2 separate regions of the Homo sapiens genome follow, and region 1 is linked to region 2. The links come from fine-mapping of genetic effects on gene expression. A gene starts in region 2. The other region holds a variant in brackets. All regions are shown on one strand. Distances are between the middles of the regions. Region 1 overlaps MMP24-AS1-EDEM2 (MMP24-AS1-EDEM2 readthrough). Region 2 holds the start of MMP24 (matrix metallopeptidase 24).

Region 1 (13,717 bases), 31 kb after region 2:
AGAGAAATACCTGAAACTGGGTAATTTATAAAGAAAAGAGGTTTAGTTGGCTCAGGGTTCCACAGGCTTTACAGGAAGCATGGCTGGGGACGCCTCAGGAAACTTTCAATCGTAGTAGAAGGCAAAGGGGAAACAAGCACATCATCATATGGCAGGAGCAGGGGGAAGAGTGAGAAGGGGGAGGTGCTCCACACCATTAAACAACCAGATCTCATGAGAACTCACTCACTATCAGCAGAACAGCAAGGGGGAAGTCTGCCTGCATGGCCCAATCACCTCCCACCAGGCCCCGCCTCCAACAGAGACACAAATCAAAACATATCACCTGGTAACAAACAGATATCAGGATTTACGTAATTTCAGGCACTGGGCTACCTTCTTTTGAGGATACAATGATGAATAGGACATAGTTCCTGTCCTCAATTTACCATTTATTAGAGGAAATAAACCAATAAATTTTAAATCACAACACAATATAATAAGTGCTGCAGAGAATTATGTTCCACATCCCACAGTTGTTAAGCCACTTCTTTTTTTTTTTTTTTTCCTGAAACGGCATTTCACTCTTCTTGCCCAGGCTGGAGCACAATGGCACAATCTTGGTTCACTGCAACCTCCGCCTCACGGGTTCAAGCAAGTCCCCTGCCTCGGCCTGCTGAGTAGCTGGGATTACAAGTGTGAACCACTGCAGCTGGCTAATTTTTTTTTTTGTATTTTTAGTACAGATGGGGTTTCACCGTGTTGGCCAGGCTGGTCTCGAACTCCTGACCTCAGATAATCCACCCGCCTCAGCCTCCCAAAGTGCTGGGATTACAGGCGTGAGCCACCGTGCCCAGCTGAAGAGTTTGAATTTTATTCTCAGTGTTTGGGGAAGTCGCTGGAGGCTTTTAACCAGGGCATCCTGTAATCTCATTGCATTTACAGAGCATTTTCACATGTACTTCCTCCTTGAAGACGCACCTCCACCTAAGACCAAGAACTAGAGTTCTCATGTTGCAGAGGAGGAAACTGAGGTTCATATTGGTTCAGCCACTTGCCTGGGGGTCCTATGACTAGTGGTGGAGCTGGAGCTTATCAAGCCCATATATTCTGATTCTCAGTCTTTATACAGCTATTTCCTCATCTATGATTGTGAGTGCATGAATTAATGAATCAATCAATCATGTTCTTGTTGGGGTCCATCCAAGCCAGGGTCCCAGAGTGTAGCTTGAGGATGCACATTGCTTTCCAGACTGGAGCTGGGGAATAGGCAGTCCCTTCCTAAAGTGTTCAGTGACCACAGTGCATATGCGTGTGTGTGTGTCCTCTCTCTGCCCAGGTGGATGAAGAAACCCCGATGTGGTGTCCCTGATCACCCCCACTTAAGCCGTAGGCGGAGAAACAAGCGCTATGCCCTGACTGGACAGAAGTGGAGGCAAAAACACATCACCTACAGGTGCTTCGACTCTCCCTCTTCCTCCCTGCCTTTGGCTCCACCCTCACTCTGTTTTTCCTGGCCTGAGTTTCAAAGGCTCACAATGTAGGGGGGCCTGGGGATCAGGCTTACAACATAGGCCAAGAGCCAGGCATGTGGGCATTGGCACTAGGTGCTGAGAGCCCATAACCTTGTCCTCCTTGTGGCTTCCACAGGATGCTGTGACTCCAACCTCAGGTTTATTTGGTCCTCTGGGGGCTCTTAGTTGTCTTCTGTTTAGATGCCTATAGTTTTTAGGTTACAGGAAGTGGGGTATGAATGGTTTGGTAACTTTCAGCTGTGAAAAAGAATCGTGGCTTGCAGTGAGCTATATCATGCCACTGCACTCCAGCCTGCGTGACAGAGTGAGACTCTGTCTCCAAAACAAAACAAATGAAACAAAAACCACAAAACAAAACAAACAAAACCATGGCTTAATTCAGTCTCCTTATCACTGCCTGCCAAACCCCATTCCCTCTGATCTGGATCCTCCCACCCCAAAATCCACCTGATGGACTTCACCTGAGATTCCCAACGCAGAGTTCCAGTTGTTTCTTAAGGAGTATAAAGAACTGGGACCTGAATCATAATAGTGTCATCTTTGACTGTCTGGAGGAACCAAGGGCAGAGCAGGATCCATCTCCAAGTCAGATCAGTGGCCCAAGAACTAGATGATGGAGCCCATCACAGCAGACTGAAGCACCGGAGTGAGGCTGGGGCAAGGGCCAGGCATTGAGCAGGCTCAGGTGGGGGTGGGGCAAGGGGCAGGCACTGGACAGGCTCAGGTGGGGCTGGGGCAAGGGCCAGGCATGGGCAGGCTCAGGTGGGGCTGGGGCAAGGGCCAGGCATGGGCAGGCTCAGGTGGGGCTGGGGCAAGGGCCCGGCATGGGCAGGCTCAGGTGGGGCTGGGGCAAGGGCCAGGCATGGGCAGGCTCAGGTGGGGCTGGGGCAAGGGCCAGGCATGGGCAGGCTCAGGTGGGGCTGGGGCAAGGGCCAGGCATGGGCAGGCTCAGGTGGGGCTGGGGCAAGGGCCAGGCATGGGCAGGCTCAGGTGGGGCTGGGGCAAGGGCCAGGCATGGGCAGGCTCGGGTGGGTGCTGGCTGGCACTTCTCAAGGCTCTGCTGTCATCTCAGGTGGATCCCTTTGGTGCAGAGGCAAGATCTAAGACAGAGATCCTCAAGAGTTGAACTAAGGGCTCCCCTGCTGACAAGCACTCCCTACAGAACGGGACTTTTTTTTTTTTTTTTTTTTTTTCAGAAATCTGACAAGAGAAGGAAAGTTAGGGTTGAACTAAGGGCTCTTCTGCTGATAAGCTGTCCCTTCAGAACGGGATTTTTTTTTTCCAGAAATCTGACAAGAGAAGGAAACTTAAGAATCTAGGTTAGAAACTGAATAGACTCTTGGGTCTCTTGAAGGGGTAGAGTGGATCAAGAGAAAGAAGCACTGGGTTCTAACCCAACTCTGAGTAACTTCTATCACTAGACTTCTCTGGGCTTCAGTTTCCTTACGTGTGGAGTAGGTAGAATAATCCATGCCCCAGAGGGTCACAGGGCAGGGAACCCACAGGTAGTAACGTTGTTTTGTGAAGAACCAATGCAATATGAACACAGCGACGCTAAACAGCTAAACCTATAATGGATTAAATCAGATACCGGCCAGCTTCTAGGCAGACAAGCCAAAGATTGGTACCAAAGATTTTTTAAAGAGACTTTTCACTTAAACTCCTCTCTATTATTTGAATATTTTTATAACTTTTATAAATGAACATATTTCGTATTAGGGAAAAAAACTTAAAATTCAGAAAATGCTATCTACCAATTTCCTTTGGGTTTTTTTTTTTTTTTTTTGAGACAGAGTCTCACTCTTGTTACCCAGGCTGGAGTGCAGTGGTGCAATCTTGGCTCACTGCAACCTCTGCCTCCGGGTTCAAGCAATTATCCTGCTTCAGCCTCCCGAGTAGCTGGGATTACAGACTCACACCACCACGCCTGGCTAATTTTTGTACTTTTAGTAGAGACAGGGTTTCACCATGTTGGTCAGGCTGGTCTCGAACTCCTGACCTCATGTGGTCCGCCAGCCTCGGCCTCCCAAAGTGCTGGGATTACAGGCGTGAACCGCTGCGCCCAGCCCCAATTTACTTTTCTCAACAAACTAGAGTGGAATCCTTTATTCGACACAGCTTTGCTGGAGATCAAATGGAAAACACTGAGTAAAGCAAAGCCATCTGACTGAGGCAGGGTGGGGATCCAGAGCTCTGTTACTCAGCCTCTTCTTCAATCCCTGAGGCAGCTAAGCAGAATTCTAGGGTTCAAAATCAGATCACTGAGCCACATTGTCTCAGGTATCTATTTTAGCTCTGCTAGTCTCTGACTCTCTGATCTTGCCTAATGATCCTCCCCTCTCTCACCAGCATTCACAACTATACCCCAAAAGTGGGTGAGCTAGACACGCGGAAAGCTATTCGCCAGGCTTTCGATGTGTGGCAGAAGGTGACCCCACTGACCTTTGAAGAGGTGCCATACCATGAGATCAAAAGTGACCGGAAGGAGGCAGACATCATGATCTTTTTTGCTTCTGGTTTCCATGGCGACAGCTCCCCATTTGATGGAGAAGGGGGATTCCTGGCCCATGCCTACTTCCCTGGCCCAGGGATTGGAGGAGACACCCACTTTGACTCCGATGAGCCATGGACGCTAGGAAATGCCAACCATGACGGTAAGGCCATGAGGGGACAGGGGTCAGTCTTGGGCTGCTCAGTTGTTGGGAAAGAACTTGGAGGACATCCTAGATGAGTTTCCTGCTTTCTAGAGCCTCTTGTCCAAGAACTAAGACCGTAAGAGGGTGGGAACTGTGATTTCTGATAATATTCAACGTTCAATCCACCAGGGCCAGGGCCATGGAGATGAGTCAGATCACTTAGAAGATAGTCCGGTTGGCAGGAGAAAAGTAAGGTTAGGCCAGTAAGAAGATAAAGTAATGGACCAGAGGCTGAAGAAAAAGTTTAAAAGGGGCCAGGCACAATGGCTCACGCCTGTAATCCCAGTACTTTGGGAGGCCAAGGCAGGTGGATCACCTGAGGTCAGGAGTTCAAGACCAGCCTGGCCAACATGGTGAAACCCTGTCTCCACTAAAAATACAAAAATTATCTGGGCGTGGTGGCGGGTGCCTGTAATCCCAGCTACTCAGGAGGCTGAGGCATGAGAATCGCTTGAACCCAGAAGGCAGAGGTTGCAGTGAGCCGAGATCGCACCATTGTACTCCAGCCCAGGCGACAAGAGTGAAACTCCATCTCAAAAAAAAAAAAAGTTAAAAGGCATTAAAGCTGAAAGAGGGGTCTGAAAGTAGTAGGCTCTGGCCTGAATGATGAGGGCTCCAAAAGCCATCTTATGAATGACACGACTGGCTCTCTCCTTTGTCACCCTCACAGGTGAGTAGCAGGCCCTGAAATTATTCTGGCATCCTTGGATAATTTACCCTGCACCACTATGGTTCAATGAATATTTATGGAGGCAGAGTCAATACCGTGCAGCAATAGTAATGATACCCTGCAGGTTGCCAAAAAATTCATCATCAATATTTACTCACAAGGCACATGCTTAGTATGTAGGCAAGTGTACATTATTACACCCATTTTTAAGATGAAGAGTTGGGGCTCAACTGGCATAGCTGAAAGGTGACAATGCAGGTATCAAGCCCTGGTTCAACTACTGGCTATGTGATACCCTCGGTCTCCTCGTCTGCAAAGTGAGGGGCTGGATTAGGTGATCGCTAAGGGCCCTTCCAACTCTAATGAACATGATACAAAGTCTTGCAAAGACCAGGGGGAGCTGAATGTTTGAAAAAAATGGCATGATCTCTGTCCCCTGGCAGTCCAGAGTCAGTCTAGCAGGGGAGTTAGGTGTGCACGTAAGTAACCCTGTCATAGACAGACTCTACCCAAGGCTGTAGCAGAGGCACAAAGAAATATGTAGGAGTTTGGAGGAAAGAGGGACAGAGGAGTGTGGCTTTTGGATTATAAGAGATGATAATTAGTGGGTATGCTGGTGTTCTGAGGCCCGTGCCAAGTGCTTGCCACCCATTATGTGTGGAAACTATTATATCTATTAATACATTATAATGCATAATTAAATTTATGTATTAAGCAATATATAATGTTAAATTATTATTATAGGTAAATATTGCTATCTTCATTTTACAGATAGGTAAACTGAGATATAGAGAAACATTAAGTCACCTACCTAAGGTCCCACAGTTGGTGAATGGTGAAATAAGGCTTTGAATCTGGGCATTATGGCCCTGGAGCCCATGCTGTCAGCCATCATGCTAAGCTTCCATGGTTCTCAAACTGTAGGGCACAGCAGAATCACCTGGGAACCATTTTTAAGAATTCAGATTCCAGGCCAGGCACGGTGGATCACACCTGTAATCCCAGCACTTTGGGAGGCCGAGGCAGGTGGATCACCTGAGGTCGGGAGTTCAAGACCAGCCTGGCCAACATGGTGAAACCCATCTCTACGAAAAACACAAAAATTAGCCAGGCATGTTGGCAGGTGCCTGTAATCCTAGCTACTCTGGAGGCTGAGGCAGGAGAATCCCTTGAACCCGGGAGGCGGAGGTTACAGTGAGCCGAGATCATGCCACTGCACTCCAGCCTGGGCAACAGAGATTCCGTCTCAAAAAAAAAAAAAAAAAAAAAAAAAAGACTGCAGATTCCAGGACCCTAACCTCTTGTCATTCTGATTCTCTGGGTCCGGGGTAGGGCCTGGGAATCTGCAAGTGGTCTAATACATTCCTGGGGCCTTCTGATGCAGGTGTTCCATCACCATGAGAAACGCTATCTTAATACCTAGAGTTTTCCTACCTGGCCTGATCATAAGAACCAATGGGGGTTCTTGTTATAAACGGGGATTCCCAGGCCCTTCCCACAGAAATCCTGACTCTTGAGCTCAAACAAGCTTGGGAAACACCGAGCATCCTTTTTTCCTGCCCTGCGGCTGCTCCAGGCTGAGAGCAGACTCTCAAAGCTGGTTTGGTGTCTATAGTTGGGGCCATGTTTGGTGTCTATAGTTGGGGATCACCTCCTTGAGAACACTTTATATCATCGCATGGATTAGGGATTGGCAGCTCTGGGGTTATCTGTCAAAGGCTGGACCAGGAGGTGGTTTGGCCAAGGCTCAGCCTAGGCAAAGTCATGAACCTGTTAAATTGTTCTTTGTCCTCTTCTTTCTTCAGATTTTTGTCCTCTTTCCTATTGAACTCCGTTTCCTTTGCCCTGGTATCTCTCCCGTATGTCCTGCATGTATTCCTGGCTGAGTACCTGTTCTTTATCTCATTCTTATTTTTGGATCGGTGTCAACGAATGGCTGTCTGTGCTAACAGATAAGATGTGAGGAGAAGAGAACTAATATTTTTGAGGCCCTGTTATGTGCCAGGCACTGTTAGCTGATAGGGTTTTAGTTATATTCCTGATAGAGGCAAATGAATGTCCAAAGAGTTGTCCAGAGGCAACGGGAAGACACTCCCACTCCTCTGCCCTCCCCTTCTGCCCAGCACTGGGGGTGTGCACTTCCCACACCTGCTCCTTGCTTTTGCAGAACTTGTTGGACCCAGCCCCCAAATCCCAAGAGCCGGTGGTATGTGTGGGAAGGACCGGGGACCTGTGGATGGGCACCATCCCAGCACCTCTCCCATCTGTCCAACCCTAACCTTCATGAAAGACTGCCAATTCTGATAGAAATTCCAAGATTGCTAATGTTTTCTTTGGATAAGAATCAGGACTTTGCTCTGCTCTGGAAAACCAAGCAGGAACTGTCCAGATGCAGCTCAGGACCACAGCAATCGACTCCTGAACTGGAATGCAGTGAAGGCAGGTTTTGGGTGAGAGGCAAGGAACCAAAATTTATTGAGCATCCATATATTATCTCGTTTAATTTCCACATAGACTCAGCAAAGGGGTGGAGTTTCCTGGGAACTTTTTGAACTTATTAGCTTACTTCTTTTTTCTAAACTCTCATTATGGAAAATTTCAAACTCACAAAAGTAGGAAGAATGCTTCTATGATCTCCCAGATACCCACCACCTGCCTCAGCAATTATCAACGTTGTGGCATTCCTATTTATCTACCTTTTTTTGGCTGATGTATTTTAAAGAAAATCTCAGGCATTCTAACATTTCACCTTTAAATACTTTAGTATATACCTCTAACAGATAAAGGCTAATTTTTAACATAAGCACACAATCATTATCAAGCCCAACAAAATTAACAATAATTTTTTAAAATCTAATACCCAGTTCGAGTTCACTTTCCCAAAGTACCTTGGAAATGTCTTTTACAGTTGTTTGCTTGAATCAGGATCCAAACAAGATCCACACACACATGGCTGACATGTCTCTTAAAGCCCTTTTTATTTAAAACACCCCCGTCCTACACACACGTTTCCCTCCATATATTTGTTGAAGAAACTGGGTCAGGTGTCCCGAGTATAATCATTTGGCGTGACTAGAATCAAGTTTACTTTTAATACGTCTCTCTTGCCCATAATTCCTGAATGTTGTTCATTAGATTTACAGGCTGACTAGATTCAAGTTCAATTTTTTTGGCAAGAATACTTCCTAGGTGGTGCTGGTACTTCCTATTCACCATATTAGCAAATACATATGATGCAGACTGTCCCACTTTTAGTGATGTTGAGGTCGAGCATTTGCTTCAGGTTGTGTCAGCCTGACCCAACCATTATACAATTCACCTGGAGAACTTAAAAAAAAAAAACAACAAAAAAGATTGCCTACGTCCCAAACCAAACCTCCTGAATCAGAATATCTTCCCCACCTCCTCCATGTGTTTAAAAGGCTCCCCGGGCCAGGTGCGATGGGAGCACTGGAGTAATCCCAGCACTTTGGGAGGCCGAGGGGGGGCAGATCACCTGAGGTCAGGAGTTCGAGACCAGCCTGGCCAACATGGCAAAACCCCGTCTCTACTAAAAATACAAAAATTAGCCGGGTGTGGTGGCACATGCCTGTAATCCCAGCTACTCGGGAGGCTGAGGCAGGAGAATGGCTTGAACCCGGGAGGCGGAGGTTCAAGTGAGCCGAGATTGCACCACTACACTCCAACCTGGGTGACAGAGTGAGATCCTGTCTCAAAAATAAAAAAGAAAGAAAATACTTTTTAAAAAAATAGGAAATTCACCCCTTTGGAAAGTGGCAGAGCCAGGTGTGACCCCAGGACTCCGCATTTTTAAGTCACCACAGGTGGTTCTGCTGCAGGTGGTCCGAGTATTTCCCTTGGTAAAATACGGTGCTTTTGGCGCTGTTCCATTCCGGGGGCTGTCACCTGGTTCTTCAACACAAAGCTTGTCCTCAAGGAACCCACAGTCCTGGGGCAGCGAGCATGTGCACTAGTGGCAATCACGTGGGGAGGAAGCGGTCAGTGCCATAAAGGCAGTTCAGGGAAACTGCTGGGAGGGCACAGCAGAAGGAGCACTCACTGCCAGCTGGGAAGTCATGGAAGGCTTCCTGGAAGACAGGCATGGAGCTGAACTTTGAAGGAATCAGGTTATTCCAGGGGAAGGGGCAGCACTGGCAGAAGAACAGAGGCAAAGGGAAATGCTATCACCTTTCGTGGGGCTGGGGGAGTTAATGAGATGGGAACGACCAAATATGGAGATCCTAAAAGAAAGAAATGAGGCAGAGACAAGGTCCACTTGAGTAGCCGAGTAGACTGCTGGGGACTTGCTCGGAGGCCCAGGGACTTACAGGAACACACCCTATCAGGGGTGCTGGTGCTCACACACAGCTCAACAGGACCCTGCTAATGAAGGGTAATACTTCTGTACCAGGAGCTGGTATCAGCGCATTACACACCCTGCCCCATGAATCTTCACCCACATCCCTATGACGAAGGTGCCATTGTTCCTTCTATCTTCCAGAGGAAGAATTTAAAATGTCACACTGCTAGGACATGGCAGAGCTGGGATTCAAAACCAGGCAGTCTGGCTCCCAGAGACTGCATTCCTGACCACTCTGCTTCCCTGCCGCTCACCCTCTTGAAGAGTGAAGACCCTAGCAGCCTCCTGCCCATGGAGCATGGGGTCCTCATAGCAGGCCTCTCCTCCTCATACCTCTGCCTTCACCTCACAAGCTCAGGGAGTCCTCCTGCCCCTGCCCTGCTCCCTCTGTCTCCCCCTCAGGGCTCTCTTGGGTTTCTGTGCAGCAGGATACTGGCTCCCTCGCTCTTCCCTTCCTTTTGGTTCCTGGACCCAAACCACAGGCCTCTTTCCTTTAAGGGGTCACTCCTGTTCTCTGCAGACCCAGAACAGGGGTTAAAAGAGCAAGAGACAAGGCTGCGGACAAAGGTTTTGAGTCTCCCACAGTGCTCAGAGCCGTGTTCCCTGGTTCCCAGCTGAGCTCCCTGTGGACAGCCCCTGGGGAAGAGCCTGCTCAGGAGACAGAGGCCCTGAACAGCTTGTCCCAGGTCATAGAATAGCCCAGGAGCACAGCCAGGACTGGACCCCAGGAAGCAGAGCTGCCTTCCGCTGGCTCTACCAGTTTGTTTGGGATGGAGCTCAGCGATGAGCTCACCCTTCCCTGCTGCCAGAGGGGCCAGGACCTGAG[T/G]AAGGAGCTGGGGGCGGCCTGGCCCTCTCATGCCAGCAGAAGGCCAGCCCCAGGCTTTTGGCCAACCTTGCACTGATCTTGCCCATCCCCCTTCCTTTCCGTTGCTCAAAGGTGGCTTCACAGAAGACACTGGCGGTGTCAGTAGTGTGGGAGGCATGTACTGCCCGTGGCCTGGGTCTGCCCCATGGGGTTCTTCTCTCTTCCAGAGACCTAAGCCAGGAAGGCCAAACAATCCCCACCCCCATGTGTCCCTAGGCCAGTGACGCTGGGGCCAGAGTGGGCAGTAGGACTCTAGACCACCTCCTAGGTTCCTGGCAGCCTCCCTGGACTTACAGGTGGCAGGAATGGGCCGAGCCATGCCTTAGGGCCAGAAGATAAGAGGCAGGGCTCAAGGGGCTACAAATGCCAGAGGTCAAGGCAAGCAAGGGTCTGACACTGGGCAGACAGGAGTCAGGACTGGTGATCCACAGCCTACCTGACTCCCTACCCCCTGCATTTTCTCCCCAAAGCTGCGGTTACTTCATCCCCCTAAGTTCAGGCCTCCTTGTCCTGTCCTAGGCACAATACAGAAGCCCAGGGGAGTTGGCTTTCAGAGGATCTGGTTGCTGGCGCTCCACTGGCCTCGTGCTTCCTTTCTGGTCAATGGGCTTCCTCCAGTAACCAAGCTTCTATCTTACATAGGATTACAACAGCTGCCATTCTGTGTCATACCACGCACTTCACGTGTATCTTATTCAACCTCACACAACCCGGTGAGGTAGGTCTGATGCCCCCAGTTTACAAGTGAGGACATTGAGGCTTAGGGGTAGCCCTGCTGGCCATATTCACAAACTGGCAGGGGGAATGAAGGTAATCTGTCCTACTCAGGAGCCCAAGCTCGTAACCACCGTGCCATGGAGCTGCCTCAGTTCCACCCTCAGGATCCTGTGTCCCACTTCCAGGACCTGGAGTGTGTTTTCACCTACACTTGAATCCCTGCCTCAATCTTAGCCAACAGTTCCCTGCTTCCACAACCAAGGTCCTGCAGAGAGCTGCCCACGCCCGGGCCCCACCTGCCCTGCCCGGGGTCTCCTGAAGCTGACTGCCAGTTTGCCAGGACTTGCTCTCTTTGTCCCCACTCCCTCCCTCCACCTCAGGGCATCCTTTTTTTTTTTTTTTTTTTTTTTGAGATGGAGTCTCACTCTGTTGCCCAAGCTGGAGTGCAGTGGCGCGATCTTGGCTCACTGCAACCTCCACCTCCCAGGATCAAGCGATTCTCCTGCCTCTACCTCCGGAGTAGCTGGTACTATAGGCGCAGGCCACCATATCTGGCTAATTTTTGGTATTTTTAGTAGAGATGGGGTTTCACCATGTTGGCCAAGCTGGTCTCGAACTCCTGACCTCAAGTGATCCACCCCGATCAGCCTCCCAAAGTGCTGGGATTACAGGCGTGAGCCACCACGCCCAGCCAGCTCAGGGCCTTTTCATCTCTTGTAGGGGTGGGTTGCCCCTCCACACCTGTGGGTGTTTCTCGTAAGGTGGAATGAGAGACTTAGGAAAGAAAAAGACACAGAGACAAAGTATAGAGAAAGAAATAAGGGGACCCAGGGAACCAGCGCTCACCATATGGAGGATCCCGCCAGCCTCTGAGTTCCCTTAGTATTTATTCATCATTTGTGGGTGTTTCTCGAAGAGGGGGATGTGTCAGGGTCACAAGACAATTGTGGGGAGAGGGTCAGCAGACAAACACGTGAACAAAGGTCTTTGCATCATAGAGAATGTAAAGGATTAAGTGCTGTGCTTTTAGATATGCATACACATAAACATCTCAATGCTTTACAAAACCGTATTGCTGCCCGCAGGTCCCACCTCCAGCCCTAAGGCGGTTTTTCCCTATCTCAGTAGATGGAGCATACAACCGGGTTTTATACCGAGACATTCCATTGCCCAGGGACGGGCAGGAGACAGATGCCTTCCTCTTGTCTCAACTGCAAGAGGCATTCCTTCCTCTTTTACTAATCCTCCTCAGCACAGACCCTTTACGGGTGTCGGGCTGGGGGACAGTCAGGTCTTTCCCTTCCCACGAGGCCATATTTCAGACTATCACATGGGGAGAAACCTTGGACAATACCTGGCTTTCCTAGGCAGAGGTCCCTGCGGCCTTCCGCAGTTTTTGTGTCCCTGGGTACTTGAGATTAGGGAGTGGTGATGACTCTTAAGGAGCATGCTGCCTTCAAGCATCTGTTTAACAAAGCACATCTTGCACCGCCCTTAATCCATTTAACTCTGAGTTGACACAGCACATGTTTCAGAGAGCACAGGGTTGGGGGTAAGGTTATAGATTAACAGAATCTCAAGGCAGAAGAATTTTTCTTAGTACATAACAAAATGGAGTCTCCTATGTCTACTTCTTTCTGCACAGACACAGTAACAATCTGATCTCTCTTGCTTTTCCCCACAATCTCTCGCCTGGACCCCAGCATCCAAACAGATCCCCCTGCCCCAGGTCTTGTTCCCTCTAATCCTCCCTCAACTGCAGCCAGAGTGATTTAATTGTATCACCACCCCCACTCCTACTTAAACCCCCCACTAGCCAAGAAGCTGATCCAAATTCCTTTGTATGGCATTAAGCGCCCTGCTTTCCAGCCTGGCTGACCTCATCTCTCTCCGGCCCTCCCCTCCTGCTTTGTTCCAGAGCCAGGTGGAATGAAACTGCCTGTCTCTGGACTGTGTTTATTGCATTCCATCCGCCAGGAATGCCACCCCCACCCTTCCTCTCCTGCCCCCTGAATCCGTTCTCCTGACTAACTTCTGATCCTTCAAGACTGAGCTTCAACTTCACCTTTGTGAAGCTTTCCCTGAACATCTTCCTCCAGGTTTAAATGACCCCTCTCTCCTCAGAATCCCTGCTCGACCCTCCCAGACATTCTTAAAGCACCCAGAGCCCTCTGCCTCACTTGTCACTCTCTCTCTCCTTGTCCCTGCTCTGCAGAGAGGCTTGGGAGGCAGGGGTTGTGCCTGATTTCTCTGTATGTCCCTGGTGTCCAGCACGGGGCCTGGCACAGGGCCCGTGCTCGGTGTTTGCTGAGGTAATGGGTTGGCTGACCGACTCATATCTAAGCAGGTGCCCTGGGCACCTCCCCACACTCCTCTCCACAGGGAACGACCTCTTCCTGGTGGCTGTGCATGAGCTGGGCCACGCGCTGGGACTGGAGCACTCCAGCGACCCCAGCGCCATCATGGCGCCCTTCTACCAGTACATGGAGACGCACAACTTCAAGCTGCCCCAGGACGATCTCCAGGGCATCCAGAAGATCTATGGTGTGTGGCAGGGAGAGGGGGGACTGCTCCTTCCTCGGGGCTGGGCTGTGACTGCCTACCTGTCATGGGGCAGGGGACGAGGGAGGGGGACGTTGCTATCATCAGCACTGCTGCTGTTTCTCTGTGTGTGACCTTTACAGACTTCCAATGGCTTTGCCTGGCCAGAGGGCAAGGCTTCCCCTGGCACACCTGGGAAACCTAGGGGAGGGTCTGAGCTGTAACTGAGAGGGACAAAAGTGAGGTGAGGGCCACCCATTCCCTCTCCTTTACCCCTCCCCTTCCACACTCTTCCCCGTCCCTTCATGCTTCTCTCCCTCCCTCCCACACCAGATGGTGACTGAGTGCTCCCAT
Region 2 (16,451 bases):
ACAAATTCTGCCAACTCTACTTTCAAAATCTATGATTCCAAAAAAATCCAAAAAAAGTGTAAAGGGAAAAAATACAAAATACAAAAAACAAAAAATTAAAAATCAAAGTCTATGAGAATCCAACTACATCTCTGTATCTCTACTTGGACCCAGGTCTGAGCCGCCATCATCTTGTACTTGGATTATTGTAATAGCCTCCTAACTGGCCTTTCTGATATGGTCTTAAAACCTTTTCTCAGCCCAGCAACCAAAGTAATTCTGTTAAAACATAAGCCAGAAGATGTCTCTTCCACTCTCAGAACCTCTCATCAGTTTTTGTTAAGAGACAGGGTCTCACTCTTGCTCAGGCTGGAGTGCAATGCAATGATGATCACATAGTTTACGACATTCTCAAAGTCCCATGCTCAAGCAATCCTCTCACCTCAGCCTCCCAAGTAGCCAGGACTACAGGTGTACCCCACCATTCCTGGGTAATTTTTTTTTGTTTTTGGTAGAGATGGTGTCTTGAACTCCTGGCCTCAAGTGATGAGTGAGAGTATCAGGAGATGACAGATGATGATCAGGTGAGAGGATCAAGAGACTGTCCTACCTCAGTCTCCCAAAGTGCTGGGATTACAGGCATGAGCCACCATGCCCAGCCCCATCAGTTTTTTATCTCATGTAGACCACCCTTCCCTCCATAACCTTCATCTCCTGATACTCTCACTCTCTTCCACTCTAACCACAGTGATTCTTACCCTTTTCCTCAAACCTACCAGGCACGTTCTTGCCTCAAAACTTTTGCATTTGCTGTTCCGTCTGCCTGGATTCATTTCTTTCAGATATCTACATGGTTCACTCCCTTGTTCCTCCAGATCTTTACAAAAAACTCACTTTTTTACTGAGGCCTTCCCTGGCCACTCCATCCAAAAATTTTTTTTTTTTCTCTCTCTCTCTCTCTCTCACACACACACACACACCATTCAGATTTCAAGTCCTAAATCCTGCTTTTCTCAACAGAAAAAAAATGCTATTTAACTACATATATATATTTAAATCATTTTGTTCGTTGTCTATCACCCCAGTTTTTTTGTTTGTTTGTTTTTGTTTTGTTTTGTTTTGTTTTTTCTTTTGAGACAGAGTCTCACTCTGTCACCCAGGCTGGAATGTAGTGGTGCGATCTCAGCTCACTGCAACCTCCACTTCCCGGGTTCAAGTGATTCTCGTGCCTCAGCCTCCTGAGTACCTGGGATGACAGATGTGCACCACCATGCCCAGCTAATTTTTGTGTTTTTTAGTAGAGATGGGGTTTCACCATGTTAGCCAGGCTGGTCTTGAACTCCCAACTTCAGGTGATCTGCCCACCTTGGCCTCCCAAAGTGCTGGGATTACAGGTGTGAGCCACCATGCCCGGCCTGCTCCATTATAATTTAAGTTCCATGAAAGCAGGAAGTGTTATTAGATTTGTTCAAAGCTCTATCATCCCAGTACCGAGAATAATGTTCAACACAAAATAGGTGTTTCACATAAGTATTTGTTGAACTTGTTTCTTGAGTGAAATCAAACGTTATCATTTTGCTCCTCTGTTTTGGGTCATTCTGCCCAGAACAGAGTACTCATGCCTTTTGGTCTCAGGACCCTCTCTACACTCAAAGTATTGAGGGCCAGACACAGTGGTTCATTCCTGTAGTCTCTGGTACTTGAAAGGCTCAGGTGGGAGGATCACCTGAGCTCAGGAGTTTGAGGTTGCAGTGAGCTATGATTGTGCCACTGCACTGTAGCCTGGGCGACAGGGTGAGACCCTGTCTCAAAAAAAAAAAAAACACAAAAACATTCAGGCTGGGCTTGGTAGCTCATGCCTGTAATCTCAGCACTCTGGGAGGCCGAGGCAGGCAGATCATGAGGTCAGGAGTTCAAGACCAGCCTGGCCAACATAGTGAAACCCCATCTCTACTAAAAATACAAAAAATTAGCCAAGTGTGGTGGCTGGCACCTATTACGTAATCCCGGCTACTTGGGAGGCTGAGGCAGGAGAATCGCTTGAACCTGGGAGGCAGAGGTTGCAGTGAGCCAAGATTTCGCCACTGCACTCCAGCACGGGAAATAGTGCGAGACTCTGTCTCAAAAAAAAAAAAAAAAAAATTTCAGGACTCCAAATAACTTTTGAAAATTCAGGACTCCAAATAACTTTTGTTTATGTGGATTCTGTCTATTGATAAGTATCACACTAGGGATCAAAACTGAGAAATTGTTAAATATTTACATACTAATTCATTTAAAATAACAATAATAAACATGTTAACATAACATTTTTATTTTTAAAAAAATAATAAAAATTTAGCTGTTTTGTTCCAAAACGAAACAAAAAAAATAGTGAGAGGAATGCTACTGTTTTGCTTTTTTGAAAATCTGTTTTATGTCTGGTTTAATAGAAGATAATTGTATTATCCTATTTACTTCTCATTCAATCTGTATAATGTGCCATGAAGCCCTGGAAAACTACCCAGTACTCTCATGAGAAAATGAGAGTTTAAAAAGAAAACAATGTCTTCGTATTATTATGTAAATGGTTGTTGTCTCCATATATATCTGTTGTCTTTGTACATAGTTTTCCCTCCCATTCTACATAGCAAACTCCTGCTGGTCACTCAAGGTCTGTCTCACCTGCCATCTCTAGACAGTCAGTTGTTCCCTCCTCCCTACTCCCATTTCTCTATTATAGCACATATTATGTTATCTTGTTATCTGGATAATTGTCTATCTTCCCAACCGACTATCTTCCTAAAGAAGGCAACTATAACTTGATCTTCTTTACATCCCTAGCCCCACTCACAGTATCTAGCACCAAAAAGATATTTAATAAATATTAGTTGAATAAAGAAATATGAGGCCAGGTGCAGTGGCTCATGCCTGTAGTTCTAGCACTTTGGGAGGCCAAGGCAGGTGGATCACCTGACGTCAGGAGTTTGAGACCAGCCTGGCCAACATGGCGAAACCCCATCTCTACTAAAAATACAAAAATTAGCCGGGCATGTTGGTGGGTGCCTATAATTCCAGCTGCTCAGGAGGCTGAGGCAGGAGAACCGCTTGAACCCAGGAGACGGAGGTTGCAGTGAGCCGAGATCATGCCACTTCACTCCAGCCTGGGCAAAAGAGCAAAACTCCATCTCAAAATATATAAATAAATATGAAAGGAGGTGAAGGGAAGAGGGGACCCAGTTTATCTACAGTGAGCTCAGGCACTGATATAACATTTCTTTTTTTTCTTTTCTTGAGACAGGGTCTAGCTCTGTTGCCCGGACTGGAGTGCAGTGGCATAATCACAGCTAACTGTAATCTCTGCCTCCTGGCCTCAAGTGATCCTCTCTCCTCAGCCTCCCAAGTAGCTGGGACTACAGCCATGTGCCACAACTCCCAGCTAAATTTTTTTTTTTTTTTTTTTTTTTGTAAAGACAGAGTTTCACCATGTTGCCCAGGCTGGTCTTGAACTCCCGGGCTCAAGTGATCCATCCTCCTTGGCCTCCCAAAGTGGTAGGATTACAGGTGTGAACAACTGTGCCCAGCCAATATCATAATTCTTTTCTTTTCTTTTTTTTTTTTTCTTTTTTGAAACAGAGTCTCTTGTCGCCCATGCCAGGGTGCAGTGGCACAATCTTGGTTCACTGCAACATCTGCCTCCCAGGTTCAAGCAATTCTCCTGCCTCAGCCCCCAAGTAGCTGGGATTACAGGCGTGCACCACCACGCCCGGCTAAGTTTTGTAGAGATGGGGTTTCACCATGTTGGCCAGGCTGGTCTCGAACTCCAGACCTCAGGTGATCCACCTGCCTCAGCCTCTCAAAGTGCTGGGATTACAGGTTTGAGCCACTGCGCCAGCCCCAATATAATATTTCTTGTTAAGATTATCAGTGTCAAAGGTTTTCCAACATCACACTCTGGGGACTGTTGTGGGGTGGGGGGAGGGGTGAGGGATAGCATTAGGAGATATACCTAATGCTAAATGACGAGTTAATGGGTACAGCACACCAGCATGGCACATGTATACATATGTAACTAACCTGCACATTGTGCACATGTACCCTAAAACTTAAAGTATAATAATAATAATAAAAAAAGAAAGAAAAAAACAAACAACCCCATTAAAAAGTGGGCGAAGGATATGAACAGACACTTCTCAAAAGAAGACATTTATGCAGCCAAAAAACACATGAAAAAATGCTCATCATCATTGGCCATCAGAGAAATGCAAATCAAAACCACAATGAGATACCATCTCACACCAGTTAGAATGGCAATCATTAAAAAGTCAGGAAACAACAGGTGCTGGAGAGGATGTGGAGAAATAGGAACACCTTTACACTGTTGGTGGGACTGTAAACTAGTTCAACCATTGTGGAAGTCAGTGTGGCGATTCCTCAGGGATCTAGAACTAGAAATACCATTTGACCCAGCCATCCCATTACTGGCTATATACCCAAAGGACTATAAATCATGCTGCTATAAAGATACGTGCACATGTATGTTTATTGTGGCACTATTCACAATAGCAAAGACTTGGAACCAACCCAAATGTCCAACAATGATAGACTGGATTAAGAAAATGTGGCACATATACACCATGGAATACTATGCAGCCATAAAAAAATGATGAGTTCATGTCCTTTGTAGGGACATAGATGAAACTGGAAATCATCATTCTCAGCAAACTATCGCAAGGACAAAAAACCGAACACTGCATGTTCTCACTCATAGGTGGGAATTGAACAACAGAACACATGGACACAGGAGTGGGAACGTCACACTCCGGGGACTGTTGTGGGGTGGGGGGAGGGGGGAGAGATAGCATTAGGAGATACACCTAATGCTGAATGACGAGTTAATGGGTGCAGTACACCAACATGGCACATGTATACATATGTAACAAACCTGCACATTGTGCACATGTACCCTAAAACTTAAAGTATAATAATAATAATAATAATAATAATAAAAAGCTTTTCCTAGCAGCTGGTCAGTTTACCATATAGTTCATTAAGTGAATTCCAACCACTCATGTGGTCTTTCAAGTGAAGTGGAGAAGACAGAGGTCATTCATTTCATTTTATGAGGCAACCAAGGCCCAAATAAATGAAGTGACTTGCTGAAAGGCATACCAAAAGTCAGTGACAGAGCCAGTGCTTGAATCAGGTATCTGACGTTAAGTCAAGTGCTGTTTCCATTTTATCCCATGCTCATCATGGTGACTGGAGGCTGCAAAGTCAGAGTTCCCGTGATTCTATCTTGGGGTGTTGCTCTGAAACCTTCTAAACCTCCTCTTGAACTGATTTCACAGCAGTCTCTGGACCGTCCTCTTACTAAGGACTATCTTAGGGATCCATTTTATAAGCAACCATTGACTTCTATCAGCCTCTTCTTTCCTTATCATCAATACCTACTGCCATTCACATCCGCCATCCTTGGGAGCTGGTCAAGGTGGACCACCACAGTGCTATATCATCATCGGCAGTTCCACAAGCATTTGGTATTAGAGGAAAGGAGAAGAATAAGACAGAGCTCAGTCCAGTCTGTTCCCCTTCATTCTTTGAATATACTATTTCTTCTTTCTGGAATATATCCCCTCCCAAACCTTCCAACTTTGGCAGTTCATTGCTCTTTCCTCAGTGTTTCCACAACACTTTGTTCTCATTCGTGTCATAACTCATCATGTAACCACAATGATTTGTCTCTATCATCTCCCTACCGGGACTGTGAGCTGTTCACCTCAATGGTGTTAATACAGTCTTCAGTCTCTTTGATTTCCCTGAGACTGTCAACTCCTTCTCTCTCTCTCTTTTTTTTTAGACAGAGTCTCACTCTGTTACTGGGCTGGAGTGCGGTGGCGCAATCTCAGCTCTCTGCAACCTCTGCCTCCCAGGTTCAAGCGATTCTCAGGCCTCAGCCTCCTCAGTAGCTGGGATTACAGGTGTGCACCACTATGCCTGGCTAATTTTTGTATTTTTTGCAGAGACAGGGTTTCACCATGTTGGCCAGGCTGGTCTCAAACTCCTGGACTCATGTAATCCGCCTGCTTTGGCCTCCCAAAATGCTGGGATTACAGGTGTGAGTCACCACGCCCAGCCAACTCCTTCCTTTTCTTTGAACCTCTCTTCTTCTTTCCGGTGATACTCCACAATCCTGATTCTTCAGTCTTTTTGGACAATCTTTAGATTCACTTTTGGCTTGACTTTTCTCAGGCTCTGAATATGTATGTCTCAGGATGGAACTCTTGGCCTTTTGCTCTCTTCAACTCTTTGCTTTCAGCTTCAACTACCGTATTTACTTGAAGGTGTCCAAAATATCCATTCTCCACCTTCTTCGAGAACTCATTCCCATACCCATCTCACAGATCTTGTGGTCACCCCAGTTTCAGCAAGTCTAAAACCGAGCTCCTTGTCACCTCCTTCAAGCCAGTTCCTCCACATGAGGACTCCGTTTCTGTGAAGATGCTACCATCCATCTTTCTCGATTTGCCATCACTCCAAACTCCTTTCCCTCTTCTTGTATGCCCATTGTCTCTTAAATCTGTCTCTTTTCTCACCCCCATCCTAGAAAAAAATGGGTTCTGAAGTCAAATCGATTCAGCTCTATCACTTATGAATCACGCAAGTTTGGCAAACTTATTCAGAGTCTTCCACTTCTTTATCCTAAATTAGGGGTAATAATAGCATCTATTTCATAGGGTTTATCTATGAAGATTAAATGAGATATCGTGGAGGAAAGTGCTTAGCCCAGTAACTAGTATGTATTAGGCACTCAATAAATGTTAATTATTATTGTTATCCTTATTTCCTTATACTTAGACTATTACACTAGTCTCCTAACCAATCTCTCTGCCTCCTCTGGTCATTATTCTCTCCACTGGGAGGGGAACTAACATGGAATATCTATTAAGTGTCAAGCACCTCATGCTGAAAGCAATCTTATACAGTAATAGTAGCATCATTTTATAAAAATGGAACAGAGCCAAGATATGAACATAGGTCTGACGCTAAAGCCTGTGCCCTTTTTTCATCTCCAAATTACCACGTAATCATAAAATACTATTTTCACACATCATCCTGCTTAAACACACACATACACACACACACACCACACACACACAACCTTTAATGACCACCCTCCCCCATTTTCCTTCAGAACACAACCCAAATTTATTATCCTAGCATTCACTGTCTTGTACAACTTCCCTCACTTCCCAACACTTTCCTATAGGAACCCTGTGCTCCAGAGAAACTTATCTGCCGCCTCAGGCACATCCTGTACACCCTCAACTTCCTCCCTGAAATGCCCTCTCCTCTCCCCTCCCCTGGTTTAAATCCAGCCTTTCCTTCAGGTCCTAGCTAGAGTCCCACCCTCCTCCATTACACTTTTTCCTAACTTCCCCAGCCCCTCATCAGGTCTCCCTCGACCCCTGGAGCAGCCGCCTGTATCCTTGTTGACACGTGGTGTTTGCCATTCTGTTTTTCTTTGCGTTTATGTTTTCTCATCAAGCTGTAAACCTCTGCACTCCAGGAAATCGGCCTTCTCTTTTTTGTTTTTGTTTTTGGGTGTTTTTTTTTTTCCTTTCAGCATCCCAAGTAGCCCAGAGCCCTACAAATAGAAAGCGCTTGATAAATATGGGTTGTTTTGGATGAAAGATGATCTTCCCAGCTGGATGAGCTCTTTCCCTCTAGGGGTGAGGGACTGAGCTTCACCTCAACTTCACCTAATGTCTCACAGGAATGCCCCCTCTTAAACGCTCCTCAGGTCTTCTCTACCCCTTTCCCCCACCACCCCGGCCCAGGAGAGCCACTCAGAGCTCCCTCTCCGGAGTCACCCTCTCAGACCCAGGGCTATTTCTTTAGCTTGCTCTCGAACCCCGCCTTTACCCCAGAGCCGCTCCTCAGTCTCCTCCCCCAGGCTGCCTCTCAGGCCCCCTCTCCTCCAATGCCACTCCCTAGGACCCTCTCCCCAGGGTTCCGGACCCCCAACCCCGGATATGTTCCCCCAGGGCCATCCAGTTGTTCTACCTCCAGGATTACTGATTTAGCCTCTTCCCCCTCCTGCTCAGGGCTACCCCCAGACCCCGACCTCCAGTTCCACCCCTTCGGACCCTGCCTCTAGAACTGTTCTTTTAGCCTCTGCAACCCCCTCCCCAGCGCCGCTCCGCGGCCCCTGCCCCAGGGCTGGTCGGGGAGCCACTGCCCTCGCAGGTCCCGCCCGGGTGCTGCCCCCGCGCCCCCGGCCGCCCCCCACCGGGGCGGGGCGCGCGGAGGCGGGGGCGCGCTGGCGGCCGAGGCGGCGGCGGCGGCGGCGAAGGCAGGCGGGCCGGGCGCGGGCCCCGCCGCCGGGATGCCGAGGAGCCGGGGCGGCCGCGCCGCGCCGGGGCCGCCGCCGCCGCCGCCGCCGCCGGGCCAGGCCCCGCGCTGGAGCCGCTGGCGGGTCCCTGGGCGGCTGCTGCTGCTGCTGCTGCCCGCGCTCTGCTGCCTCCCGGGCGCCGCGCGGGCGGCGGCGGCGGCGGCGGGGGCAGGGAACCGGGCAGCGGTGGCGGTGGCGGTGGCGCGGGCGGACGAGGCGGAGGCGCCCTTCGCCGGGCAGGTGGGGCTGGCGCGCGGGGCCGGGGCGCGGGCTCGGGGCATCCGGGCAGGGCGGGGGGCGGCACCGGGGACGGGCCTGGGCCGGGCCGCACCTACTGCCGAGGTCGCGGAGGCGGCGCGCCGGGGGTCCGCGCCTTGGGTCCGGGCTGGCGCGGCCCAGGGCGGGGGCTGGGGAGGGCCTCGCCGAGGGCCGCCGAGGCCGGGAGCTGCTTCAGCACCGCGGACAGGGGCAGCGGGCGGGGGCCGAGCACGAGGGTCGGGTTTGTTGTGTTGGCAGTGGGGTGTGTGGCCTGCATGACTATGTGCGAGGGAAACCGTACAACGCCTCGGAGTAAATAGTAAGCGCAGCCAGTCTGTTGTGGGTTGGGAGAAGAAACCGAGGATGTTCAAGCTGGAGAAGGGGGAGGGGGAGGGCGGAGGAAGGACTCGATCACTGTCTTCGTAGCTGAAGGGCTGTCAGGTGGAGGTAGGATAGACTTGTTCTAGCTTGGCCCCACAGGGCAGAACTAGGGCCAGCGGGAGTGGGGGTTGCAAGAAGACAAATTTGGGCTCGATATAGGAAGAAGTTTGTAACAATTGGAGCTGCTCAACCAGCTTAGGAGGCGGCGAGCTGCTCATCACTGGCATGTGCAAGTAAAAGCTCTCGGAGGGGATTGGATGGAGGCATGCATAATGCTTGCATGGATGCATACATCATCATCACAATAATGCCAGCTAGCATTTACTGAACACTCACTATGTGCCAGGCCTGGTGCTATGTTTTATACGAATTATCCAATTCAATCCTCATAACTACTCTATGAAATAGCTGCAATTATTATCCCCATTTTACAGATGGGGATACAGACTCAAAGAGCTTAAGTAACTTGCCCAAGGTCACACAGCTAGTGAGTGATGGAATTGGAATTCTAACCTAGGCAGGCTGACTCTAGTCTCCCCTTATTTACCCATGACCTTATCCTATATCTCATGGGGGGTGCAGTTGGACTAATTTCTCTAGTATCTTCCAACCTAGAGGACTGCAATATTCTAATAAATGATGTTGGGACAATGGTGTTTTGCTGAGGAAAATCAGAGTGATAGCCTCGCCACCCTAAGAGATGGAGTATATTTGTTGAAGCAGGCAGTCTGTTTGTTTAGAAGAATCTGCCTCAAGAGATATTCTTAATTGGGCATGGAGCTCAGGGGGTCATACGTGCACTGAAATTGCGTACAAATTTGTAAGTGCAAATGTGTGTATTTCTAGGCGAGGACCCCTAGATTTCTTCAGCCTCTCAAAGGGTTACAGGTTCCACAAAACAACAAAAAAGATATGGTGTGTAAAAGAACCTTTAGTGCCAGTTGGCAGTTGTCCTCCAAAGATTTTATAATTGCTGGTTGACTTGTTGTGGAAACTTTGCTTAGCCTCTTTGTGTTTTCACATGTGTTTTATCACATGTTAAAGTAATGCATTTCCTAAGTTTATACCCTAGAAGAAAGATTGCTTTAGACTGCCTGAGTGCACAGGATGAGGTGGAAAGACCCTGGCCTGGGATTAAGGAGGCCTGGGCTCTGATCTGACCTTGGCCCCCATTGGTTTGTGTGACCTTGAGCCATTTCCTTGCCCTCTCTAGGCTTGAATTTCACCATGTCTAACATAAAGAGATAGAGCTAGACAATCTCAACTCTGAAACTTTTTTATTCCTACAATATTTCAAGCATTAAGAGGAAGCTAGTCCTTACCTGTATCAGTTTTATAGGCTTTGATTATTCCACCTCTTAGCCTTTGTCTTTTTAAACTTAAGTTTCCCCCTATGACACGAGACCCCTAGAATAGCCACACTCATTCTCTGGGTCATTTTAGTTGTCCTTTTCTAGATACCTTTTGGCCCTAATTTTCAATAGATGTCAACTTGACCATTGTCTCCAGATACAGGACCCTACGGTTTTGCATAAAGGAAGGTTGGTTTCTTCTTTGCTCTCCTGGTCCCATCCTGCTTCCCCCTTCCCTCTGTCAGCTTTCCTGATCTCAACACACTAGGCCACTGCCTTTAGGGAACAATCTATAATAGCTCCCGGAGCCTTTTCCTGGGTCAAAACTGATAGCCTGGAACACAACACCCTGTATGTGGATTATTTTTATCGGAGTGCATTACCTTACATTTCTCCACCTTGACGTTTGTCTGCCATCTTGCATTGCACTCAGTAACTTCCTTCAAGCATTCGCTCACTCTCTCTCTCCCTTCCTCCACCTCTTCCTCCTTCCTTCTCTTTTGGCATAGCATTTCCCTGTCTGAAAGGGCTTAATATGATCTGAAGTCTTGAAATTTTCACTTTGCTATATTTCTTCTGGATCACTTATAAAAAATTTAAGTGAGACAGGTCCCAGCATGGTCTCTTGGGGCCCCCTGCACTCTTAATCCCCTTTCATTCACGGAAGTGACCATTTATATCTATCTATTGTTTTCTAAGTGACAAAAACATCATCCTTAATTTGACAATGACTCCATTTTAAATGTCTAATACATTGTCCAAAACTTCCTGAAAGATAGACAAATTATATCCACTGCTTCTCTCAATAATTTGTGCCTAATTATCCTTTCACTGAACACTAGGGGATCACTTGATTGACACCTTATAGAAATATTGTTGCTTTTAAGCCGGCAGATAATATTGCTTACTCCTCTTTCTGTCTTTTAAGCCCTCTGGAGTCTGTCTCCACCCTACCCCTCCATTAGCAGGCCATATTTCCCACTGCTTATTGATAACGCATCCTTACTCGACAAGCTCATCTCTCCTTTACCCTTAGACAGGCTGCCCATATTTCTCTGGACATTGTCACATAGTTACTTCTGCACCCCTACCCGTTCATTTGAAACCTTTCCTTAAAGTTTCAGCTCAAGCCCTGCTTCTCCAATAAACTTTCCCTGATTTCTCTAGTTGTCATTTTCTTCTCTCTTCTCCAGGAAACATTTTTAAGGCAGCCCCAGCCAGTTTGTCATTTATTTATTTACTTATTTTTATTTATTTTATTTATTTATTTTTGAGACAGAGTCTCACTCTGTTGCCCAGGCTGGAGTGCAGTGGGGTGATCTCGGCTCACTGCAACCTCCGCCTCCCAGGTTCAAGCGATTCTCCTGCCTCAGCCTCCTGAGTAACTGGGATTACAGGCATGCACCACCACGCCCGGTTAATTTTTGTATTTTTAGTAGAGAAGGGTTTTCGCCGTATTGGCCAGGCTGGTCTCAAACTCGTGACCTCAAGTGATCCACCTTCCTCAGCCTCCCAAAGTGCTGGGATTATAGGTGTGAGCCACCGTGCCCAGCCCTATTTATTTTTTAATAGTTAAACATTATTTTTGGGGAGAGGAAGGTTGGTTCTTAGGCAAGGCTTTCTTGACCAAAATGTTTTATTTTTTTACATTGAACAAAATCCCTGATTCTCAATGCTCATCATTAAGTATTCAATGAGCAATCAATGATTCTACTCTTTATCCTTTATCTCAAAAAGTTACATGGATCTGAAATAGGCACTCATGGGCATGGGGCTCCAAGCCCCCTTCTAAAACCCTTCTTAGAGATGGGACTCATTGCCAACTTGTACTTTCTTCGGTAGAAATCAAGCCTATTCCTTTTGGCAGTGGTTCCACAAGCTCACCCTTGAGTTCCTTCAGAACTCTTTAGGTAGTCTTCTAATGGTAGTGGCATCAATAGAAAGAAATTGAGAGATAACCGTGACCTTAGAGATCACCCAGTACCTACTACAGCACTTACTAGATACTTCTTTAATTGAGTTGCCCAAGGGCACAGAACGTGATAGTAGATGATTCGGAACTACTGTAGAACTTTTCCTAGTTCTCCTGATTTCTAAATTGAAAGCATTTTTCATCATCATTGATTTTTCATTTCGTATCTATGATCTTTCATTACCAAGCCAAAAAATTTTTTTATTCAGTCTATCTTCTCCTTTGCTTTATTTTTCTCCACACCCCACAACCCCCGACCCCTTGAAGCTCAACAAACAGGATCCTATGCTTTCTTTAGTCTTTCTTTTTTATCTTACACATCAAGAGGTCCCACTGATTCTCTAACTGGCTTCCTTCATTTGATTTATTAAAAGCACCACTTCTCTTATTTGCTGAGTAGAATGCTCCTCAAATACTTTTCTGGCCTTCCTAGTTTCCAACTTGATTCTGAGGAAGATCAGAACAGGATGAAAGAGACAAGTCAATTATCACAGGCCACATGAATAAGTAACAGAGTGTGACTCCTAGACCCAGGACTTATGGATTCCTGCCCTTGAGACTGGTTTTGAGTGGTTTGTGCTGAGGAGATGGAGAACAGTCTTTGGTTTGAAACTGTAGTCAAGGAAGATTGACCCCGAATGATTGGAGGGGTAAGAGAGTGACCTACTAAGAAGCACCAACGTATTCCCAAATCAAAATATTCTTTCACTGTGATCATGGCCTCCAGTATATCTTCATTCTTGTCTGGAAAAAAAAAACTCACTATTAGGAAGTTTTCCCTTTTACATAAGCTGGATCTAGTCTACTGTATTTTTAATTCATTTTCTCTTATTTTTACTGTGGGGTTTCATATTACTTTAATAGCTGTTTATATTTGTAAGGTGCTTTGCACTTCCCATATGCCATGTATGTGGCCCTATTTGGTCCTGGGAACAATACCATGAGGTAGATAAGGAAGACATTGTCCTCATTTTATAGGTGAGTAAAAGGAGACTCAAAGATGATGTGAATTGCCTATCATCTTGTCTAAGGACCCACACATAGCTCATAAACATTAAAGCAGGCCAGGCATGGTGGCTCACACCTGTAATCCCAGCACTTTGGGAGGCCGAGGCAGGTGGATCACCTGAGGTCAGGAGTTTGAGACTAGCCTGGCCAACATGGTGAAACCCCATCTCTACTAAAAATACAAAAATTAGCTGAGCCTGGTGGTGCATGCCTGTAATCCCAGCTGCTGAGGCAGGAGAATTGCTTGAACCCCGGGGGCAGAGGTTGTAGTGAGCCAAGACTGTGCCACTTCACTCCAGCCTGGGCAAAAGAGTGAATCTCCGTCTCAGAAGAAAAAAAGAAATTAAAGCAAATAACAGAAGCTAGGTTTTCTGTTCTTGGGCTCAGCACTCTGCCCACTATACAAGTTTCCTGTTCTGGATTATTATTGTAGCCTTTTAGCCAGTCTTTTCTACTTTCAAGTATGTCCTACTCTGGTCCTTGAAAGAGGTATTTTTAGAACTAATAAAAGTAAATTATAATTGTACCCAAAAGACTAATCTTAGGAAATGCCTAGCCCTATAGTATGGTATTGTTTGAACTCAAAACAGGAAGAACAAACCACAGCCAATATCTCCTCAGTACCTAGCACAGTGCATGATACATTCTGGACATGTGATAAATATTTTAAAATTAATTTTGTTATCTAATCCCCATCAACTTCTTTGAATAGTGCTTGGCACACAAAAGTCGCTACCTTTTGTGAAGAATAAATGAATGCATGCTAGAGGTATAACAAGGTGCCGGGAAGCACCGAAGAGGGAGGAGATGAGGTTCCCCAGTTGAGGTTCGGGAAGCCAGAGAATGCTTCAGGAAGAAGGTGGTATCTGAGATGAACCTTTGAGGGAGGAGAATGATGGAGAAGGGTGAGTGGGGCAGTCCAGGCAGAATAAAAAATATGAACCATGGCTCCACAAAAATGCATGGCATGTTTAGGAAACAGTGGATAATTTGATGTGCCTGAATCATCAAGTTACTTGCTGTTTCCAGTAAGAGTGTATAAGGAGAAGAGGCTGGAGAGGGAGACTGAGAGCAGATTGTGCATTTGGCTTTTGTCCAAAGGCTGAGGGGAGTCATTAAAGGTTTCTGAGCAGAGGAGCGACCTGCTCAGAGCCATGTTGAGGAAGTGGAGGGACTGGAGTTTGTTCCTGAGTTGTTCTGGCTGCTGGCTCCTGCCCTGAATGCTTTTAAGCTTTCTTAGCACAACTTAGGGGCGAGTACTCATTTTAGGGCTCAAGTGACCCGCCCACCTTGGCCTCCCAAAGGGCTTACAGGCATGAGCCCTGGCCTTGCCTGTTAGCAGTAATTTAAAGACTCAATTCTATGCCACAAACACTTACGAGGCATAAAGGGCACCAAAAGTACTTGGCCAGAAAGTCAGGAGTTGTTCTTTACTCCTTTCTCTCTTTATACATATGTATGTATAAAGATCATTTGAGGCCAGGAGTTCGAGACCAGCCTGGCCAACATGGTGAAACCCTATCTCTATTAAAAATACAAAAAAATTAGCTATGCATGGTGGTACATGCCTGTAGTTCCAGCTACTTGGGTGGCTGAGGCACAAGAATCACTTGAACCTGGGAGGCGGAGGTTACAGTGAGCCAGGATTGAACTACTGTACTCCAGCCAAAGCAAGACTCTGTATCAAAAATCAATCAATGAATCAATCAATCAGTCCACTCAGGAGTCAGTTATATCTGAAGCCTATATGGCAAAAACTAATGTTTGACAAAGCTGGCTGGTGATTTTCCAATATATATTGTTATTTTATGCCTTTCTGAATGACTGAAATATTGAATAATAAAAAAAATTAAAAACAAACCAAAATCTGATCACCTTACTCCCACCCTCACCTGGCTTAAAATGACTCTTAGGACAAAGATTATACTATTATTACTGTACTACTATCACTTCTTCCTTTTAGTTTTATTATGGAAAACTTTCAAATGCATATGAAAATGGAAAGAACAATATTATAAACTCCCTTGGACGCAGCACCCACAAGGATCACTTGAGTCCGGGAGTTTGAGACCAGCCTGTGCAACATGGCAAAACCCCATCTCTACAAAAAAATACAAAGAGTAGCTGGGTGTGGTGGCATGTGCCTGTAGTCACAGCTACTTGGGAGGCTGAGGCAGGAGGATTGCTTGAGCCCAGGAAGCTGAGGCTACAGTGGACAGAGATCACACCACTGCACTCAAGCCTGGGCCACAGCGCAAAACCCTGTCTAAAACAAAAACAAAAACATGCTTAATGAAGCCGATGAGGCCCTGCATGACTGAGTCCTTCCCATCTCTCTGACTTCCTTTTATACCACCCATTCTCCCCATTGGTCACTAGACTCCAGTCACCCTGCCCTTCCCTCTCTTTTTCTAATATACAGGCTCCTTCCCATTCAGGAATTCAGTAAGGTACTCTTTCCTGGAGTCTCATTCTCAGCCTTCACCTAGCCTCTTCTGTTCATTCACAGATGTCAGCTGAGATGTCATGTACTCAGGGAGGCCATCCCTGATATCACAGCCTATATCTCCTGCCACACACTTTTGTAGCTCCTGGTTCTTCTCTTTCATTCCACTTATCACCACTGTAATGAAATGTTTAGTATTTCCATGTCTATCTCTCCCACCGGCTGTAACTTCCATGAGGATGAGTTCAAAGGGGACTACAGGCATGTAAACCATTATTTATAATGTAATACAAAATATGCTATAAATGAGGATACATATAATGCCATTGGGAGCACATAGAAAGTCCATTTAACCCCAGACAGATAGCCCTCCCTGATGAAGTGGCATTCAAGTTGCATTTTGAAGTAGCGCACCATGGGGAGGCCAGAGTACATATGGGAAAGGAGTTCTAGGGAGAGGGAATGAAATAAAGGCACAGAGGCAGGACTCTGCAGGATATGCTCAGGCAACACAATTAGGTCAGTATAGCTAGAGGTTGGGGTACTTGAGGTGAGCAATAAAGGGTAGAAGGTACAGGACAGAACATGAGGCTGGCAGAACCAGGCATGGTGGCTCATGCCTGTAATCCCAGCTTCTCAGGAGGCTGAGGCTGGAGGATTGCTTGAGACCAAGAGTTTGAG

What was found. PIP is the estimated chance that this variant, and not a neighbour inherited with it, causes the effect.
Region 1: its variant is the best candidate, but not a certain one, in a credible set for the expression of MMP24 in cerebellum (GTEx, PIP 0.75).

Annotation. Positions count from the first base shown.
Region 1 is chr20:35,250,587-35,264,303 of GRCh38, forward strand. All of the region lies in intron 2 of MMP24-AS1-EDEM2 (MMP24-AS1-EDEM2 readthrough), which reads right to left. It overlaps MMP24 (matrix metallopeptidase 24), which reads left to right. Exons shown (of 9, transcript NM_006690.4): 3 at 1,319-1,435; 4 at 3,864-4,168; 5 at 13,205-13,366. Among named protein-coding and RNA genes, the nearest start is that of MMP24-AS1-EDEM2, 21 kb to the right of the region's middle. RefSeq lists enhancers at 10,688-11,449, 11,450-12,213, 12,214-12,975. The variant T/G (reference allele first, on the strand shown) is at 10,067.
Region 2 is chr20:35,218,392-35,234,842 of GRCh38, forward strand. MMP24 (matrix metallopeptidase 24) reads left to right here and starts at 8,299. Exons shown (of 9, transcript NM_006690.4): 1 at 8,299-8,593. The coding sequence starts at 8,348. The region is part of intron 3 of MMP24-AS1-EDEM2 (MMP24-AS1-EDEM2 readthrough); the gene reads right to left.